Linked DNA regions of Homo sapiens. The protein of the gene in region 1 purifies or fractionates together with the protein of each later gene. This does not show direct contact. Each region holds a gene or a part of one and is shown in the gene's direction. Other genes may lie near its edges. The genes, in order: ZNF18 and ZMYM6.

Evidence for each region.
Region 2: the proteins of ZNF18 (region 1) and ZMYM6 purify together in Homo sapiens (affinity purification with mass spectrometry; 2 studies listed by BioGRID and IntAct, with this or other methods). This does not show direct contact.

The regions. Positions count from the first base shown.
Region 1 is NC_000017.11:11,985,209-11,994,772, reverse strand, and holds part of ZNF18 (zinc finger protein 18), read left to right. Parts: exon of another isoform or gene 1-1,271; intron 1,272-1,861; 5' UTR 1,862-1,943; coding exon 1,944-2,330; intron 2,331-3,609; coding exon 3,610-3,799; intron 3,800-4,222; coding exon 4,223-4,311; intron 4,312-9,564. UniProt on the Homo sapiens protein: May be involved in transcriptional regulation.
Region 2 is NC_000001.11:34,985,963-34,995,526, reverse strand, and holds the end of ZMYM6 (zinc finger MYM-type protein 6), read left to right. Parts: intron 1-3,139; coding exon 3,140-3,293; intron 3,294-6,591; coding exon 6,592-8,423; 3' UTR 8,424-9,362; downstream 9,363-9,564. UniProt on the Homo sapiens protein: Plays a role in the regulation of cell morphology and cytoskeletal organization.

The DNA.
Region 1 (9,564 bases):
GCCTCCCAGGTTCATGCCATTCTCCTGCCTCAGCCTCCCGAGTAGCTGGGATCACAGGCGCCCGCCACCACGCCTGGCTAATTTTTTGTATTTTTAGTAGAGAAGGGGTTTCACCGTGTTAGCCAGGATGGTCTCGATCTCCTGACCTTGTGATCCAGCCACCTCAGCCTCCCAAAGTGCTGGGATTACAGGCGTGAGCCACCTGGCCTGGCCTCTTCCTTATAATTTTCTTAATAATATTTTGTCTAACTTACTTTATCACAAAAATACAGTAACATGCAAAATGTATGTTAATCAACTATTTAAGGCATCAGTCAATAGACTGCTAAGCTTTTGGGGAATCAGAAGTTATATATGGATTTTCTACTGTGTGGGGGGTTGGCGCCCCTATCTCCTGCATTATTCAATGGTCAACTGTAATTCTTTTGACTTCGCTTTTTCCTTTCTCAGGCCCTTGAAAAAAAATTGTTTTTCTTTTTTAGTTTTTAAATGATTTTCCAATGTCGGATAAATTATTTTGGTGAAACGGTAAGGATGAAGACATTGTTTCCTACACCTTAAGAAATAAGCAGCTACAAAAAGCTAGAGTATTGTACTGATCTCTGATTAAGCCAGATCCTCAAGTGATGGGGTATCTTTTTTTAAAAATTGCTGTGATTAGTCTTAGGGAGAAATGATGACCACCAAATTCTTCATAACATTTAAGGATTTACCCAGTAATCCTATATTGTGATTACTTGCAAGAAAGTTAACTAGAAGTAGTGGATGATCCTTTTTAGAATAATATTATTTGCGATTTAATATTTCTCTTTCTACTGTCTTAGTTGTGATCTTCTAAAATTTGATACCATTCACATAAAATAGTGATTATTTATATCAACACCATAGGAGTATTTTCAAGGTAGTTAGTCTTCTCAACCCTCTTTTTTTTTTTTTTTTTTTTTTTTGTGAGACGGAGTCTCTCTCTGTCCCCCAGGCTGGAGTGCAGTGGCGCGATCTTGGCTCACTGCAAGCTCCACCTCCTGGGTTCACCCCATTCTTCTGCCTCAGCCTCCTGAGTAGCTGGGACTACAGGTGCCCGCCACCATGCCCGGCTAATTTTTTGTATTTTTTTTTAGTAGAGACGGGGTTTCACCGTGTTAACCAGGATGGTTTCGATCTCCTGACCACGTGATCCACCTGCCTCGGCCTCCCAAAGTGCTGGGATTACAGGCGTGAGCCACCATGCCCAGCCTTCTCACCCTCTTTAACCCCAAGGTTGAAAGTGTCAGGTATGATACTTGTTTTTTTCATAAATTCTCAAATAGACCTATTTTAATATGGCACTCAAAAGACCTCTCTTGGAAGTTTCATTACACCTTTTTGGTATACTTTTGGAAGTACTTTTGGTACCTTTTGGAAGACTTAACTTGTTCTCTTTAACCTCCTATTTATTACAGAAGCATGTAGGCATTAGCTTTTATTCCTAGGGCATTAATATCTTTTTCCAGCTTTATTTTTTAGTATGCAGATATATAGATGAAGATGTAGAAGTGTTTTGTAGAAGAGCCGTTTACCTGGAAACCTATAGTGAAAAAGTTTCGTATGGTGCATTTTATTCTTCATTTTGTCTGGACATTTGAAGACCAAGAAAGAACATTATAAAATGGGCAGGGAAATGGTGGCTGTTTAGATACAGTATCAGTAGTTTGCTTTGTGGCTTCAAGTTTATAATCTTTCAAAATAGAATCGTGTATCCATTGAGCAATTTCAAAAGCTCCATAGTTGACCCCATGGCTTCTCGGGTAGGGCATGTGAATTTGTTCTTTCTGAAAATGTGTCCCCTTCCTCTGTGTAGCACTCAATCTCATTCCCTTTTTAGTGTCCTGGTGAAGACCTAGTTCTTGCCGGAGACAATTCCACTGCAGAAGCACTTTACTTAAAAGGACTTGCCAGGCTGGACAATGCCCGTTGACTTGGGGCAGGCCCTAGGCCTGCTGCCATCGCTGGCGAAGGCCGAGGACTCCCAGTTCTCAGAATCAGATGCTGCCCTTCAAGAGGAACTCTCCAGCCCTGAGACCGCACGCCAGCTTTTCAGGCAGTTCCGTTACCAGGTGATGTCTGGGCCTCATGAGACCTTGAAGCAACTTCGGAAGCTCTGTTTCCAGTGGCTACAGCCAGAGGTTCACACCAAAGAGCAGATCCTAGAGATCCTCATGTTGGAGCAGTTTCTGACCATCCTGCCTGGGGAGATCCAGATGTGGGTGCGGAAACAGTGTCCAGGAAGTGGAGAAGAGGCAGTGACCCTTGTGGAAAGCTTGAAGGGGGACCCCCAGAGACTGTGGCAATGGGTAAGCAGAGGGTATTATGATCTGCGAGTGAAACACAGGGCTCCTCTCTGGTCCCATCAGGTGTGTTGTCTTTTTTCTGATACCACTTATGACACAAAATGGGTGGGGCTTTTCACACCAATGGCCAATTCTGTGATTCTCTAACACCAGTACAGTGTCCAGCAATTCAGTTCTGAAGCTAACTCTGGAGGTTCAGGGCTCAATCCAAGACTGCTCCTGTTCTCAGATGCCAGTCACAAGTCCCAGGGGCCACCTGTACTTCTGACAAATTGGCTATAAATTCGGAGGTTCCCACAGTCTTCTCTTCAAGTTTGATAATTAGTTAGAATGACTTACAGAACTCAGGGAAGGATTTTACTTCCTGTTACTGACTTACTCTAAAGGATACAACTCATTAACAGCCAGAGAGAAGAGCTGCATAGAGCAAGGTGTGGGGGAAAGAGCGTGGAGCTTCCATGCTTCTCCTGGCGTGCTACGTTACCAGTACCTCCATGAGGTCACCAACCTGGAAGCTTCCTGAACCTCATGGTTTAGGGATTTTTATGGAGGCTTCACTGCTTTGGCACACTTGATACAGTCATTTGCCGTTGGTGATTGAGTATCTCCAGCTGCCCTCCCCTCCTCAGAAGCTGGGTGGAGATACTGAAAGTTCCAACCTTTTAATCTCAAGGTTGGTTCCTCTGGCAACCAGCCCCCATCCTGAAGCTATCTAGGAGCCTAGCATAAACTCAGGTGTGGTTGAGAAGGGCTCCTTATGAATAACAAAGACTCTTCTTTCACCTGTCCCTCAAGAAATTACCAGGGTTTTAGGAGCTCTGCGGGAATGGGAACTGGGGACAAAGACTAAATGTGTATTTCTTATTATACCACAGCTGGGTTCCCCCATACCTCACGTAATTCTAACACTCTCTGACTCTCAACACTCTTTAGCTATTGAGGATTGAGGGTAAAGTCTCCCAGCGCATTCCACCTTTAGACTAGAATGTTTGAGAAGTTATTTAAAAGATGCCTGAGTTTTCATTGGTGGCGCATATCCAGTAGAAGCACGTTAGTGGCATGTCTTGAAGGTCTCCCACGCCTGATTCGGGCCTCAGCTTTTGGTGTCTTTTGGGACGTTTCTTTCCCTGGTTCCTGCTGGACTAGAAATAAAAGCTGGTTTTCTCTTTCTCCACATCCTTAGAAATTGTCTTATGATCTGTTGTAGAGAGTAAGCTTTGTGTCTTTTAGAGATCCTTACTCTGGATTCTTCAGTAATTACTAATTAATATATGGTCTCTAGATCAGTATCCAGGTTCTAGGACAGGACATCTTATCAGAGAAGATGGAATCTCCAAGCTGCCAAGTGGGGGAAGTGGAGCCCCATCTTGAAGTGGTGCCTCAGGAGTTGGGACTTGAGAATTCATCCTCAGGGCCTGGGGAGCTTCTGAGCCACATCGTGAAAGAGGAATCTGACACAGAAGCAGAACTAGGTGAGGATGGTGCTGTGTGGTGTTCTCTTGGAGAGATTTTGGGATTGTGATTAGTAGGCCTAAGTGAGTTGAAATGGTATGCTGCTCAGATTGGCGTATCCCTGAGAGGTTTGCAAACAGGTTAGACCTAAATAAACCGCTCTTGTTTGGAGAGTCAAAGTCTGTGTTTTAAACTGCTTTATGACTGGGCCAGACCATTTGGATTTTGGCTCTGAGGAAGGAGGTGGGAGAACATATGGGTGAGACTGGAATGTTGGAGGGGGTTGGAGTGTGTCAGGGAGATAAACACAAGTCTTGAAATATAGATGGCAGTACAGGTATTGTTCAGGTATTGTTCTGATTTGTGAAGATTGTTATCTGCGCCCTCTGGGGAGTGGTTAAGGAAGACATCCAGATTCTGAAAACTTCCTCTCCTCACTTCAGCCCTGGCTGCCTCCCAGCCTGCCCGACTGGAGGAAAGGCTGATCAGAGACCAGGACCTCGGAGCCTCACTGCTCCCAGCAGCACCTCAGGTGAGCTGACGTACAAAAGCGATGAAAAGGAAACTTTTTACCTTTTATAATCTCATCCTCCTGCTTCTCTTCACCCCATTCTCCATCCTGAGGAAACCTCTGATCTGCTGTCTGTCACCATATGTTAGTTTACTTTTTCTAGAGTTTTGTAAAAATAGAATCATGCCAAATGTACTCTTATCTTTGTTCTTATGCATATAATGTGTATATATATACATATATATATATTTGCTTATTTCAGTGTATTCTCATTTTTTAAAACAATTTGATTTTGATGTGCCTTGGAGTCATTTTCACATTTCATGTAATTGGGATTTATTGAGTTTCCTAGCTCTGTGGGTGTATGGTTTTCACTAAACTTGGAAAATTTTTGGCCATTATTTCTAAAGCATTTTTTTTTCTGTCTCGCTTATTTCTCCTCTCCTTTAAGGACTTGGGAAATAATACCTGTGGAATGTGTATAATGATAATGTATATACATGTATCAGAGCTCTTCAAGTTGTCCCACAGCTTACTGATTGTTTTTCTGTTTTTGAAGTCTTGGTGTTTTATTTTGGACAATTTCTGTATGTCTTAAAGTTCATTAATCTTTTCTTTTATAGTATCTGATCTGCTGTTAATCTCATCCAGTATATTTTTCATTCTGTTATTGAAGTCTTGGTCTTTTATTTTGGACAATTTCTGTTTGTCTTCAAGTTCATTAATCTTTTCTTTTATAGTATCTGATCTGCTGTTAATCTCATCCAGTATATTTTTCATTCTGTTTTTGAAGTCTTGGTGTTTCATTTAGGACAGTTTCTATTTTGATGTCTTTAAGTTCATTAGTCTTTTCATCTCACAGCATCTAATCTGCTGTTAATCTCTTCCAGTATATTTTTCATTTTAGATGAATTTTTCACCTCTAGAAGTTTGATTTGGGGCTTTATTGTATCTTTCATGTCTATACTTAATGTGTTCAATTTTTTCTCTAGCTTCTTGAACATATGGAATATAGTTGTATTTGTATTAATATCCTTATCTACTGATTACTACCTGCATTGGTTCTGGGTCAGTTTTGATCAATGATTATTCTCATTATGAGATGTATTTTCCCACTTCTTTGTATGCCTGGTAATCTTTGTCTTTTTCGTTTGTTTTGAGACAGGGTTTCACTTTGTCTCCCAGGCTAGAGTGCAGTTGTGCAGTCATAGCTCACTGCAGCCTTGACCTCCCGGGCTCAAACCATACTCCTGCCTCAGCCTCCTGAGTAGCTAGAACTACAGGCATGTGCCACAATGCTTGGCTAATTTTTTTTTTTTTTTTTGAGACAGGGTCTTGCTGTGTTGCCTAGGCTGGAGTGCAGTGGCGCGATCTCAGCTCACTACAACCTCCGACTTCTTGGTTCAAGCAATTCTCCTGCCTCAGTCTCCTGAGTAGCTGGGATTACAGGCGTGTGCCACCATGCCTGACTAATTTTTGTATTTTTAGTAGAGATGGGGTTTCACCATGTTGACCAGGCTGGTCTCGAACTCCTGACCTCAAGTGATCCACCCAGCTGGGTCTCCCAGAGTGCTGGGATTACAGGCGGGAGCCACCATGCCCGGCCTGCTTGGCTAATTTTTAAATTTTTGTGTGTCTTACTATGTTGCCCGTGCCTGGTAATCTTTGATTGGGTATCACATTGGTGGGGTGCTATATATTTTTGTATTACTATAAATGTTCTTGAACTTTGCTATGGGGTGCAGTTATTTGGACACAGTTTATTACATGGCACCAGAGAAACATTTAGTCGAGGATTATTCTTTCCATGCTAAGGCACTTCCCTTCTGAGTATTCTGAGTAATCTGATGCCCCTTCATATACCAGGTTTTCCACTTTGCCTGGTGGAAATACGAACTGTTTCCAGCACTGTGTGAACTCAGGGGATTGTTCCCTCTGATTCTTTTGGGTGGTTATTTTCCAGACTTTGCGGGGACGCTCTGTAGATCTCTGGAGCTTTCTCTTTGTGCAGTTTCCTTCTCTCCAGTTTTTCTACCCTGTCGATTCTAAGGATCTTGGCATTTCCAGACTCTGAGCTCCTTCTGCTCAACTCAGGGAGGCTGCCTGGCTCAGCCTGGGTTTCCCTTCCTGTGCTGCTGCCTGGATCCTCTGTCTAGGCAGTAAGTTTGGATAACTAGAGCTCACTGAATTTGCTTTCCCACTTTCAGGGATCTTGTTCTGCTCTGCTTGTGTAATGTGAAATGTCTGAAAACTATTGTTTCATACATTTTGTCCCATTTTTAGTTGTTTCAGGCAGAAGGTAAATTCAACAATTCCTAATACTTCATTTTTGCTTGTACATAAAAGTCTCTGGGACAGATTTATGTTGATATTTAGTTAACAATTTTGAAAAGTTGTATTTTGTAAAAAATTTTTTTTTCACGAACCTATACATCTTAATTAAAACATCATTTAAAACGTTGAAGGAACTCCTCTTGGGACTTGCCTTGCAATCTGCTGTAGCGTGAATATGAAAATAGAGAAGGCAGTAGGTAATGCTGTGTTTCAGACCAGGGTCTGAGCTTCAGCTCTCCAGGCTCAGATATATAAAAACTAGAATACCAATTTCATAGTTTACTCTGGGGGAAGGTGGATGGGGAGGTGGCAGGGGAGAGAAATATCTTTTTAGTGAATCAAAGGTACCCTTCTGCCTGCTTTCAAGGTGCCCAGAAACCAAATTGTTAAGCAAGATGTTGCTTGGTGAAAAAGATTTGGGTGTTCTGTGGAATATGTCAACCAGGCTTGGAGGATTATTGTTGTTTCTGTAGTAGGTACAGAGTATCCTCACCTGTTCTGGATAACTTAAAGTCAAAAGATTTAAAATGCTCATCAGCACCAATTTGTTTTTTACAACCGTATTTACATATATATGTGTGTCTGTATTTCCCTACCTTCAGATGATAACTAGTTAGCAACCATTTAAGTCAAATGAACAAAAGTTGTCCCTACCCAATCTGAATATCCCCTCCAAACTAACAGCAATTATTTGCATCAGAAAGACTTTGATATTTAATGGAATCCTTTGGAAGTAAAAGGAATTTTTAAATTAATCACTCCCTCTAATCTCTTAAATAAGTGAGGAACTTCATAAATAATGCCAGAATAATGATACGGTATTACTATCAGTACACAGTAGTTATTTCATTAGTGGAAACCATGACTCGGTTGGAACCTCACATAGACTCCAGCAGTGCATTTACTCACCTTCCCCTGTTTTCAGACTTAAAGGAAAGGAACAGCGTGTAACTAAGTGTAAGTCAGTTGTAATATCTTATAAACCCACAAGATGGTGCCAGTTCCACACAAAAATAGAATTTTCCCATCAAATCCCATGTGTCTGTCTTTCAGGATAGAAAGTTAGGTTTTTCCGTCTCTTCTAAATATGAGAAAGAGGCAAGCTGGCTGCCATTGGCGTCTTGCCTCTTCAGTAGGAGGTTTTATTCGAAGTACCCAGCTTCTTGGCAGTTTCTTGAGTAAATTTGTGTTTTTAAGCTGGAGGTACCCTGTTAGTGCTCCTGAAGCAACTTTTCTGGTTTTTGAGTGAGCTGATTTTGACCCTTGGGGGTTTTGGTGGCTGTATCCTTTTCTGCCTTGTACTCTTCTTGGTAGTTACTGTTCTGGTGTTCATGGAATAGATCCTGTGTCAGCAAGCCAGGCAGCCAGGCAGATATTACTGTGCTTGGCAAGTGCATCCTTTTCTCTGCTAGCACTGAAGCCAAGGTCCATGTGTTCTGACCACAAAGACTGAGAACTCCTGTGTTCAGCAATGTTTGCTCAAGTGATTATTTTCAGGAGGTTGTTAAAATAGCTGCATTCACAGAAGATTAACAGAATAAGCTGCTAGCTGTTTATACTTTAAAAATTAAAAAATTTAAATTAAAGTTCACATTAAAAATGTGGTTATAGTTAATAGTTGACTGTGTAATTCAGTATATTGAGGTCGCTTTTCAGCTTCCTATCCTTCCCACCCAAAAAAGTCCAAACCCTCTTTCGTTTGTGTGTTTGGCTTAGCACCTGCTAATTGAACAGTTTTTGGTATCTCTTTTCTCCTTGAGCCATTTCCACTTCCCTTTGATGTGCTAGGGGGCAGACTTGACTTAGGACTGAGAGTGTATTAGTCCGTTTTCACACCGCTGATAAAGACATACCTGAGAATGGGCAGTTTACAAAAGAAAGAGGTTTAATTGGACTTACAATTCCATATGGCTGGGGAGGCCCCCAATCATGGTGGAAGGCAAGGAGGAGCAAGTCACATCTTTCAAGGATGGCGGCAGGCAAAGAGAGAGCTTGTGCAGGCAAACTCCCATTTTTAAAGCCATCGGATGTTATCTTATTCACTATGATGAGAACAGCACAGGAAAGAACTGCCCACTTGGTTCAGTTATCTCCCACCAGGTCCCTCTCACAATACATGGGAATTATGGGAGCTACAAGATGAGATTTGGGTGGGGACACAGAGCCAAATCATATCAGAGAGTGCCTTCCCCAAACAGTATATTGTGTACAGTAGGAGGATGACTTTGTAGTTCCTTTCCTCATTTCTATTCCCTGAAGCCTGGCTATTCATGTCTATCCACTTTGCGGTTTCTGAAAGTGTGCAGAATCCCTTAATTCTCTCTGCAAACCCTTGGGGTGAGACTGGGAGACTGCATGTGATGGTAATAATATATATTATCTACTGAGGACCTGTTTGCTAAGGGCTTTATTTCACCCTGGTAACATATATCAAGTGCCTCTTCTGTCCTGGACAGGGTCTTGGGAACTGGGAAGGTATTATACAATGGAGAGGATGACAGAGTCCTTTTCTCATGGAGCTTACATTGCTAGTAGAGGCAACAGTTAATCAAATACTTACATGTGTGCACATACATTTGTACATACACATAAATAGTTAATAAATGGATAAATACTATAAATAAAAAAAGTACAGTGTGCTATGAAAACAGGTGACACTTGCATTATTTATCTCAAACCTCACAACACTTTTTTGAGTTCAGTGCCATCATTAGGTGAGGCCTGAAACTCTGGAAGGTTAAATAACTTGCTCAAGGTTGCACAGCTAGAAAGTGGCAACGTTGGGACTTAAAACTCAGTACGTCTGACTCCAAAAAATGGGCTGCTAATCCCTTTGCTATACAATCTGAGTTTCTAATAGTCAGCTTCTTGGTAGAAGACTGAAATTTGAATTCATGAAAGCAGACCCTAGCTGTATGGTATTCCCAGTTTTGAGTCTCC
Region 2 (9,564 bases), on another chromosome or scaffold:
ATAATTTTTATTATAGTATATTGTTATAATTGTTCTATTTAGTAGTTACTGTTAACCTCTTATGCCTAATTTATAAATAAAACTTTATCATAGGTATATATGTATAGAAAAAACATTGTGTGTGTGTGTGTATATATATATAGAACCCTATATACATAGAGGCAACATATATACATATACAACGTATATACATATATTGTATATGTGTATACAATCCTGTAGACATATTTCAGGCAACACAGTGGTTGCCTGAAACCATGAATCATACCAAACCCTATATACATATATACATATGTATATATATAGAGAGAGAGCACTTAGCACTTACCACTACCTGGAATTATATATATATATACACACATACATATGTGTGTGTGTATGTGTGTGTGTGTATATATGTATATGTATACATATATACTTACGTATATACATACATATATACGTATGTAAGTATATATATTACATATATATACGTATGTAAGTATATATATTACATATATATACGTATGTAAGTATATATGTATACATATATACATATAGATATGTATATATCCATATTATGATATATTATGGATATATGTATACATATATATATATATGTCTATATATACACACATATATACATGTGTGTATAGGCTTCGGTATGATCCATGGTTTCAGGCAACCACTGGGGGTCTTGGAACATATTCCCGGCAGATAAGGGGGAACAACTGTATAAGAAACTGGGAACAGTGGTTGTGTTCAAGGTTGAGTCTGGGTGGACGGCAGTCATTCATGTGTATATTACTTTAATTGCAAAAACCACAATTATTTTTGTACCAACGCAATACTTCTGTACATTTTGAATTTTGCACTGAGTTCATGTATTACTTTTGTTTAAATTAAATTTAAATATAACCTCCAATGGCTTCCCATCACATTTAAAATACAATCCTAATTTTGTTTTTGACTGAGACCTTCCAGATCCTATACAATTTAGTTTCTGCCTACCTCTCCAAATGTATCATTCTCCCCTTGCTTACTGTCTTTCAGCCTTGTTCTTGTTGATGTTCCTAAAGCATGCCAAGCTTTCTCCCACTTCAGGGTTTTTGCACCTATAGTCTGCCTGCCTGGACTCTTCAGACCTTAGACCTTTGCATGGCTTACTCTTTTGAATAATTCAAAAGGTCTCTGCTCAGATGTTTACTTCAGAATTGCCCCTCCTCCATGCCATCACTCTCCATTCCTGTACGCTGCTTTATTTTCTTCATCGCACTTATCACTACCTAGAATTATATATTATTTGTTTTACTTGTTTATTTTTTGTGTCTTCCTCTAGAATGTAAGGCTCATATGAGCAGAACTTTGTCTTGTTTTCTGCGGTATCTCCACGGCTTAGAACAGTGCCTGGCTTGTAGTAAACATTCAGGAAATAAATATTGAGTGAATACACATGTTTTAAGTACATTCCTCCACTCTGTTGTTTGCCCTATAACTTTGTTTTATAAAGACCTTTGTTTACAGAAGTTTTTTTTTTTTTTGGATTAAAAAACTTTACTTTTTGGCCGGGCACGGTGGCTTACGCCTGTAGTCCCAGCACTTTGGGAGGCCAAGGTGGGTGGATCACGAGGTCAGGAGATTGAGACCATCCTGGCTAACACGGTGAAATCCCATCTCTACTAAAAATGCAAAAAAAATTAGCCGGGCGTGGTGGCGGGTGCTTGTAGTCCCAGCTACTCAGGAGGCTGAGGCAGGAGAATGGCATGAATCCAGGAGGCAGAGGTTGCAGTGAGCTGAGATCATGCCACTGCATTCCAGCCTGGGTGACAGAGCGAGACTCCGTCTCAAAAAAAAAAAAATTAATTTACTTTTTAAGAGCTTTATTATGATAGGCAGAATAGTAGCCCCCCAAAGATGTCCATGTCCTTGTCCACAGAATCTGTGAATATGTTACATTACATGGCAAAGGTGAATTAAGGTAGCAAGTGGCATTAGGGTTCCTAATCAGCTAACCTTAAAATAGGGAGATTATCCTGGATCATCTGAGCAGTTTTAAATTTTGAGGTAGTCAAATGTATCAGTCTTTTCTACTTTGATTTACTCTTTTGTGTTTTATTTAAGAATACTTTGTGATCCCAGCTGGGAGTGGTGGCTCACGCCTGTAATCCCAGCACTTTGGGAGGCCGAGGTGGGCGGATCACGAGGTCAGGAGTTTGAGACCAGCCTGGCCAACATGGTGAAACACCATCTCTACTAAAAATATAAAAAATTAGCCAGGCGTGGTGGCGCACGCCTGTGGTCCCAGCTACTCAGGAGGCTGAGGCACAAGAACTGCTTGAACCTGGGAGGCGAAGGTTGCAGTGAGCTGAGATTGTGTCACTGTACTCCAGCCTGAGTGACAGAGTGAGACTCCGTCTCAAAAAAAAAAAAAAGAAAAAAGAAAAGAATACTTTGTGATCTGTTTATTTGAAAGTTCTCTAGTGACTTTAGTTCTTTTTTTTTCCCTGAGATCTTTAATTGATGTGGAATATATTTTTGTGTATGGTCTGAGGTTGGATCTAATTTTTCTGAGTAGCCAGTTGTCCTAATCAGCAAGATTAACAATTGTTTTCATTGTTTTGATCATACTTATTTTAAAAATATATATTATATGTATAATTTTTATATTTATAGTTTATAAATATATTTTTATATTTATAGTTTATAAGTATATTTTTATATTTATAGTTTATAAGTATATTTTTATATTTATAGTTTATAAGTATATTTTTATATTTATAGTTTATAAGTATATTTTTATATTTATAGTTTATAAGTATATTTTTATTTTTATAGTTTATAAGTATATTTTTATTTTTATATTTACAAATATATTTTTATATTTATAGTTTATAAATATATTTTTATATTTATAGTTTATAAATATATTTTTATATTTATATTTATAAATGTTTTTTAAAATCAGTAAATTAAACTAATACTGATTGGGAGAAGTAGGAATCTGTGTGTATTTTCCAAGGTGACTTTTTTATTGCAACCACTCTTTCAGAGGAATTATATTTCTCTTGATGTATATGAACTTTCAATTGATAGCAATTATAGTCAGTGATAAGGTACTAAAAAAAATCTTTCTTTGGTTTCTGAATTTGCTTTTAACTAGGAAAGTACACAGGAAGATGCTATGAAATTTCCATCTTCCCAATCTTCCCAGCCTTCCAGGCTTTTAAAGAACAAAGGCATATCATGCAAACCCGTCACACAGACCAAGGCCACTTCTTGCAAACCACATACACAGCACAAAGAATGTCAGACAGGTATGTATCCTTGTGCGTTCCCATGTACAAAGCTTGTTTTCTGGCTTGTTTGTTTTTGTTTTTTAAGAAAGGAAAAGAAAATAATTGACAGAGTCTTAAATGTGAAAACATTCCTTTTCTTGGATCACATGCTTTGAATACTTAATTTATTGCTTTCATAATTATTAACACTAATAACCAGCTATCATAACAAGCTATTATAATTACTAACATACAGTTTTAGTTAAAAGCATTAGTGATTTAACCTGTTTTTTTTTTTAAATACTGCGAATTCAGTTGTCAGTTGCTAACAGTACAATTAATTTATCTGAGGTATTGGTGACGATGAAAATTGTTTGAGCTTTACTTGAAAAAGTTGTGAAGTATTACTTTTAATCCCACTACCCTTAGATTTTCAATTGCTTTAATAGTCTACTGTGCCTAAAGCACTGGGTTTTTTTTTGTTTGTTTGTTTGTTTTTTTTGAGATGGAGTTTCACTCTTGTTGCCCAGGCTGGAGTGCAATAGCGTGATCTTGGCTCCCTATAACCTCTGCCTCCTGGGTTCAAGCGATTCTCCTGTCTCAGCCTCCTGAGCAGCTGGGATTACAGGTGCCTGCCACCATGCCCGGCTAATTTTTGTATTTTTAGTAGAGACGGGGTTTCATCACTTTGACCAGGCTGGTTTTGAACTCCTGACCTCAGGTGATCTGCCTGCCTCGGCCTCCCAAAGTGCTGGGATTACAGGCATGAGCCACCGCCCCTGGCCTGATTTTTGTTTTTAATAATAATTTTACTTCATAGAATACACTATATTTAAAAGCTTAGTCTGTCAACAAGTAGTAAGTTTTTATGTAGGGTACCTTTATTTTGGTAGAAGTCAAGCAGAATCCTGTTTTCCTTCCTCAGGAAATTTATTTTATATTCCTATTAAAACAATATATTATTTGTACCTGAATTTATATTATATACACGTTCACACATGGAGAGTACTAAAGGATCTGTGGGCATCTATATGTGTGTATGTGTGTGTGTATGTTTGTGTGTGTGTGTGTGCTTATGTTTTGAGTTCTAGATTAAATATTGAATTGTTGGTCAGACGTGGTGGCTCATGCCTATAATCCCAGCACTTTGGCAAGCCAACATGGGCGGATCACCTGAGGTCAGGAGTTTGAGACCAGCCTGACCAACATGGTGAAACCCCATCTCTACTAAAAATACAAAATTAGCTGGGCATGGTGGCACAGGACTGTAATCCCAGCCACTCAGGAGGCTGAGGAAGGAGAATCGCTTGAACCTGGGAGGTAGAGGTTGCGGTGAGCTGAGATCGCGCCATTGTGCTCCAACCTGGGCAACAAGAGTGAAACTCCGTCTCTTTTAAAAGAATAAATCTCGAATGTTTTCTAACAATCGAAATTACTTTTTCATTTGACATTGCATTGGAAACATTATTCCACAACAATATAAATTTAAATATACATTGAGATTATTTTTTTCCAATTTTTATTTTATTATGTTTATTTTATTTTATTCGGGGGTACATGTGCAGATTTGTTACCTGGGTATGAGATTCTTAACATAGATTTCAGTGTATATAATATAACCAACTCCGTTAAGATTGGAAATTTAGATATTTGTATTATAAGCAATGTTGGGTTAAGCTATGTTAATGGATCTTTGTCCACTTGCCTAATTATGTCCTTAGGATAAATCCTAATCAGTGGAAGTGTTGATTCAAAGACTATCATCTTTTTTTTTGTTTGTTTTTGTTTTTGAGACAGAGTCTATCTCTGTCACCCAGGCTAGAGTGTAGTGGCGCGATCTCGGCTCACTGCAACCTCCACCTGCCAGGTTCAAGCGATTCTCCTACCTCAGCCTCCTGAGTAGCTGGGATTACAGGCACCTGCCACCATGCCCAGCTAATTTTCTTTTGTATTTTTAGTAGAGACGGGATTTCACAGTGTTGGCAACGCTGGTCTCAAACTCGTGACCTCATGATGTGCCCGCCTCAGCCTCCCAAAGTGCTGGGATTACAAGCGTGAGCCACCGCGCCGGCCTATCATCTATTCTTAAGTATTTTGATACCTGTTGCCTAAATTGCCCTCCTGAAAAGTTACATCAATGTATGCTCCAACCAGCAGTGTTCAGGAGGATCCATTTCTCTACAACCTCACTGACACTGAGTATCAAAATTCAGAAAGGTTGAATATACAGTACAGTCAATACTAGTATACTCTTCATCCAGATTAATGAAATGTTAACTTTTTGCAATATTTATTTTCTTTTTTTTTCTGGATTGTTTGAAAGTAAAACATTATTTTTCTGTCTCTTTTTCTTCCTTTTCTTTCTTTTTTTTGAGATGGAGTTTCACTCTTGTCTCCCAGGCCGGAGTGCAATGACATGATCTCGGCACATTGCAACCTCCGCCTCCCGGGTTCAAGCGATTCTCCTGCCTCAGCCTCTCAAGTAGCTGAGATTATAGGCATGTACCACCATGCCTGGCTAATTTTGTGTTTTTAGTAGAGACGGGGTTTCACCACGTTGGCCTGGCTGGTCTCGAACTCCTGACCTCAGGTGATCTGCCCGCCTTGGCCTCCCAAAGTGCTGGGATTACAGGTGTGAGCCCCATGCCTGGCCTTTTTTTTCTTTTTCTTTAAAAAAATTTTTTGACACCAGTGTCACTCACCAATAAAAAATTTATTCTTTTTGTTTTTTTTTGAGACGTAGTCTCAAGAGTGCAGTGGTGTGATCATGGCTCTCTGCAGGCTCAACCTCCTGGGCTCAGGCAATCCTCTTGCTTTAGCTACCCAAGTAGCTGGGACTATAGGTGTGTGCCATTGCATCCAGCCAATTTTTTTTCTTCTTCTTTTTTTTTTTTTAATGTAGAGATGGAGTTTCGCCATGTTGCCCGGGCTGGTCTCTAACTCCAGGGCTCAAGTGACCCACCCACCTTGGTGTCCCAAAGCACTGGGATTATAGGTGTGAGCCACCCTGCTCAGCCAAAAAGTTTATTGTTAATTTGATGTGTATCATGGTCTTCAGCCCTAATTTCAATAACCTATTGGGTGCTTGGGATTACTTGTACATGTACCACATCCTACAGTTTTATTATACCTAGTGATCAAGCTTTGGGCAAAGGAGAAATTCAGTTTTCAGTAGCATCATTGGAAGTATTATGACTTGTGCTTAAACTTTTACCAGTGCATTCTTTTGATAAATAGAAATAGTAACAAAATATGAATTTTAAATATGTGGGGAGATACATAAAGAACATTGCTTATTTGTTCTTGAAAATAACAGTGATTCAAATATTTCATTCAGATTTACCTATGCCTAATGAAAAAAATGATGCAGAACTTGATTCTCCACCTTCAAAGAAAAAAAGATTAGGTTTTTTCCAGACTTATGATACAGAATATTTAAAAGTTGGTTTTATTATCTGTCCTGGATCAAAAGAAAGTTCACCAAGGCCACAGTGTGTCATTTGTGGAGAGATCTTATCCAGTGAAAACATGAAGCCAGCAAATCTTTCTCATCATTTGAAGACAAAACATTCAGAATTAGAAAACAAACCAGTAGATTTTTTTGAACAAAAATCTTTAGAAATGGAATGTCAAAATAGTTCTTTAAAAAAGTGTTTACTAGTTGAAAAGTCACTTGTGAAAGCTTCTTATTTAATTGCTTTCCAAACTGCTGCAAGCAAGAAGCCATTCTCCATTGCTGAAGAATTAATTAAACCATATTTAGTAGAAATGTGTTCAGAAGTTTTGGGTTCAAGTGCTGGAGACAAAATGAAAACTATTCCACTTTCTAATGTTACAATTCAACACAGGATTGATGAACTATCTGCAGACATTGAAGACCAGCTGATTCAAAAGGTCAGAGAGTCAAAGTGGTTTGCCCTTCAGATAGATGAGTCATCAGAAATCTCAAATATCACACTTCTTTTGTGCTATATTCGTTTCATTGATTATGATTGTCGTGATGTAAAAGAAGAATTATTATTTTGCATTGAAATGCCTACTCAAATAACTGGCTTTGAAATATTTGAACTAATAAATAAATATATTGATAGTAAATCTCTGAATTGGAAACATTGTGTTGGTCTCTGTACCGATGGGGCTGCAAGCATGACTGGCAGGTATTCTGGTTTAAAAGCAAAAATTCAAGAAGTTGCCATGAATACAGCGGCATTTACACATTGTTTTATTCACCGTGAACGTTTAGTGGCAGAAAAGTTGTCTCCATGTTTACATAAAATTCTTTTGCAGTCAGCACAAATTTTAAGTTTTATAAAGAGCAATGCATTAAATTCACGTATGTTAACAATTTTGTGTGAAGAGATGGGATCTGAGCATGTGAGTTTACCGCTTCATGCTGAAGTACGTTGGATATCAAGAGGGAGAATGTTAAAAAGATTATTTGAATTACGACATGAGATTGAAATATTTTTAAGTCAAAAGCATTCAGATTTGGCCAAGTATTTTCATGATGAGGAATGGGTTGGAAAGCTGGCCTACTTATCAGATATATTTTCACTTATAAATGAATTAAATTTAAGTCTCCAAGGAACTTTGACTACTTTCTTCAATTTGTGTAATAAAATTGATGTATTTAAGAGAAAGTTAAAAATGTGGTTGAAGCGCACACAAGAGAATGATTATGACATGTTCCCTTCATTTTCTGAATTCTCAAATTCATCAGGCTTAAATATGACAGACATCACAAGGATTATTTTTGAGCACCTGGAAGGACTTTCTCAAGTGTTCAGTGACTGTTTTCCACCAGAACAAGACTTGCGTTCAGGAAATTTGTGGATAATTCACCCTTTTATGAATCACCAAAATAATAATCTCACCGACTTCGAAGAAGAAAAGCTAACAGAGCTATCTTCAGATTTAGGATTACAAGCACTATTTAAATCAGTGTCTGTAACTCAGTTTTGGATAAATGCAAAGACAAGTTACCCAGAACTCCATGAAAGGGCAATGAAATTTTTATTACCCTTTTCAACTGTTTATTTATGTGATGCTGCCTTTTCAGCTTTGACTGAGTCAAAACAAAAAAATCTGTTGGGTTCTGGCCCTGCCCTAAGACTTGCAGTCACATCTTTAATTCCAAGGATAGAAAAATTAGTGAAGGAGAAAGAGTAGCAATATGCACATTGCTTAACAGTGAAGTCAATAATCCTGTGTTAAGTTTTGTATAAGTATCCTAAAAGATAATTTCCTAATGTGGATTTGTGTTTTCAGTGATTAAATGTTTTAATAATTTTTCCCTTTTTGTTGAGGAATTTAATAATTATGATTGTTATAAATAATTATGTATAATTATAATCTAGGGTAGAAAATTTAGTTATTTCATTAAATTTGGACTAGTGACAAAGACTGCAGGTAATGAGAAGCCCAGTTTATAATGTAACAGCACAACCTGGATGTTGAAACAGCTTGGCCTTTAGAAGCAAGTGGAACATTTCAGTCTTCTAGCCAACCAGCTACTTACCCCTGCAAGGTTGTGAGTAGGTGGAAAAGATAGATCTTTTTTTTGAGATGGAGTTTTGCTCTTGTTGCCCAGGCTGGAGTGCAATGGCGTGATCTTGGCTCACTGGAACCTCTGCCTCCTAGGTTCAAACAATTCTCCTGCCTCAGCCTTCCAAGTAGCTGGGGTTACAGGCATGTGCCACCATGCCCGTCTATTGTATTTTTTTTAGTAGAGACGGGGTTTCACCATATTGGTCAGGCTGGTCTCTATCTCCTGACCTCAAGTGATCCACCTGCCTCGGCCTCCCAAAGTGCTGGGATTACAAGTGTGAGCCAACGTGCCCAGCTGGAAAAAGATAGATCTAAGCAGCTTGGGTAACTATAAATGGAAGCAGCAGGGGGATTTGAGACCCCTGCTTGGGGCCTTTCTGGCCCAATATACCAGGGCTTAGCAAACTTTTTAAATAAAGAGCCAGATAGTAAATATTTTCAGCTTTGCAGGCCATACTGTCACAACTACTCAATTCTGCAGTTGCAGTGCAAAAGCAGCCATAGACAATATGCAGATAAGTGTGGCTGTTTTTAAATAAAACTTATTCATGAACACTGAAATATGAATTTCATATAATTTTCCTATGTCACACAAGCTTCTTTAAAAAATGTTTTTATCATAAAAAATGTAAACAAACATTATTAGCTTGGGGGAAGGGGAGAAGCATGGAAAAAAATCAGACATCTGGCCAAATTTGGCCCATGGTTTGCCCATCCCAGCTTTAGACAGATTTCCAGGTAAGAGCAAATGGGCCAGGAGTGG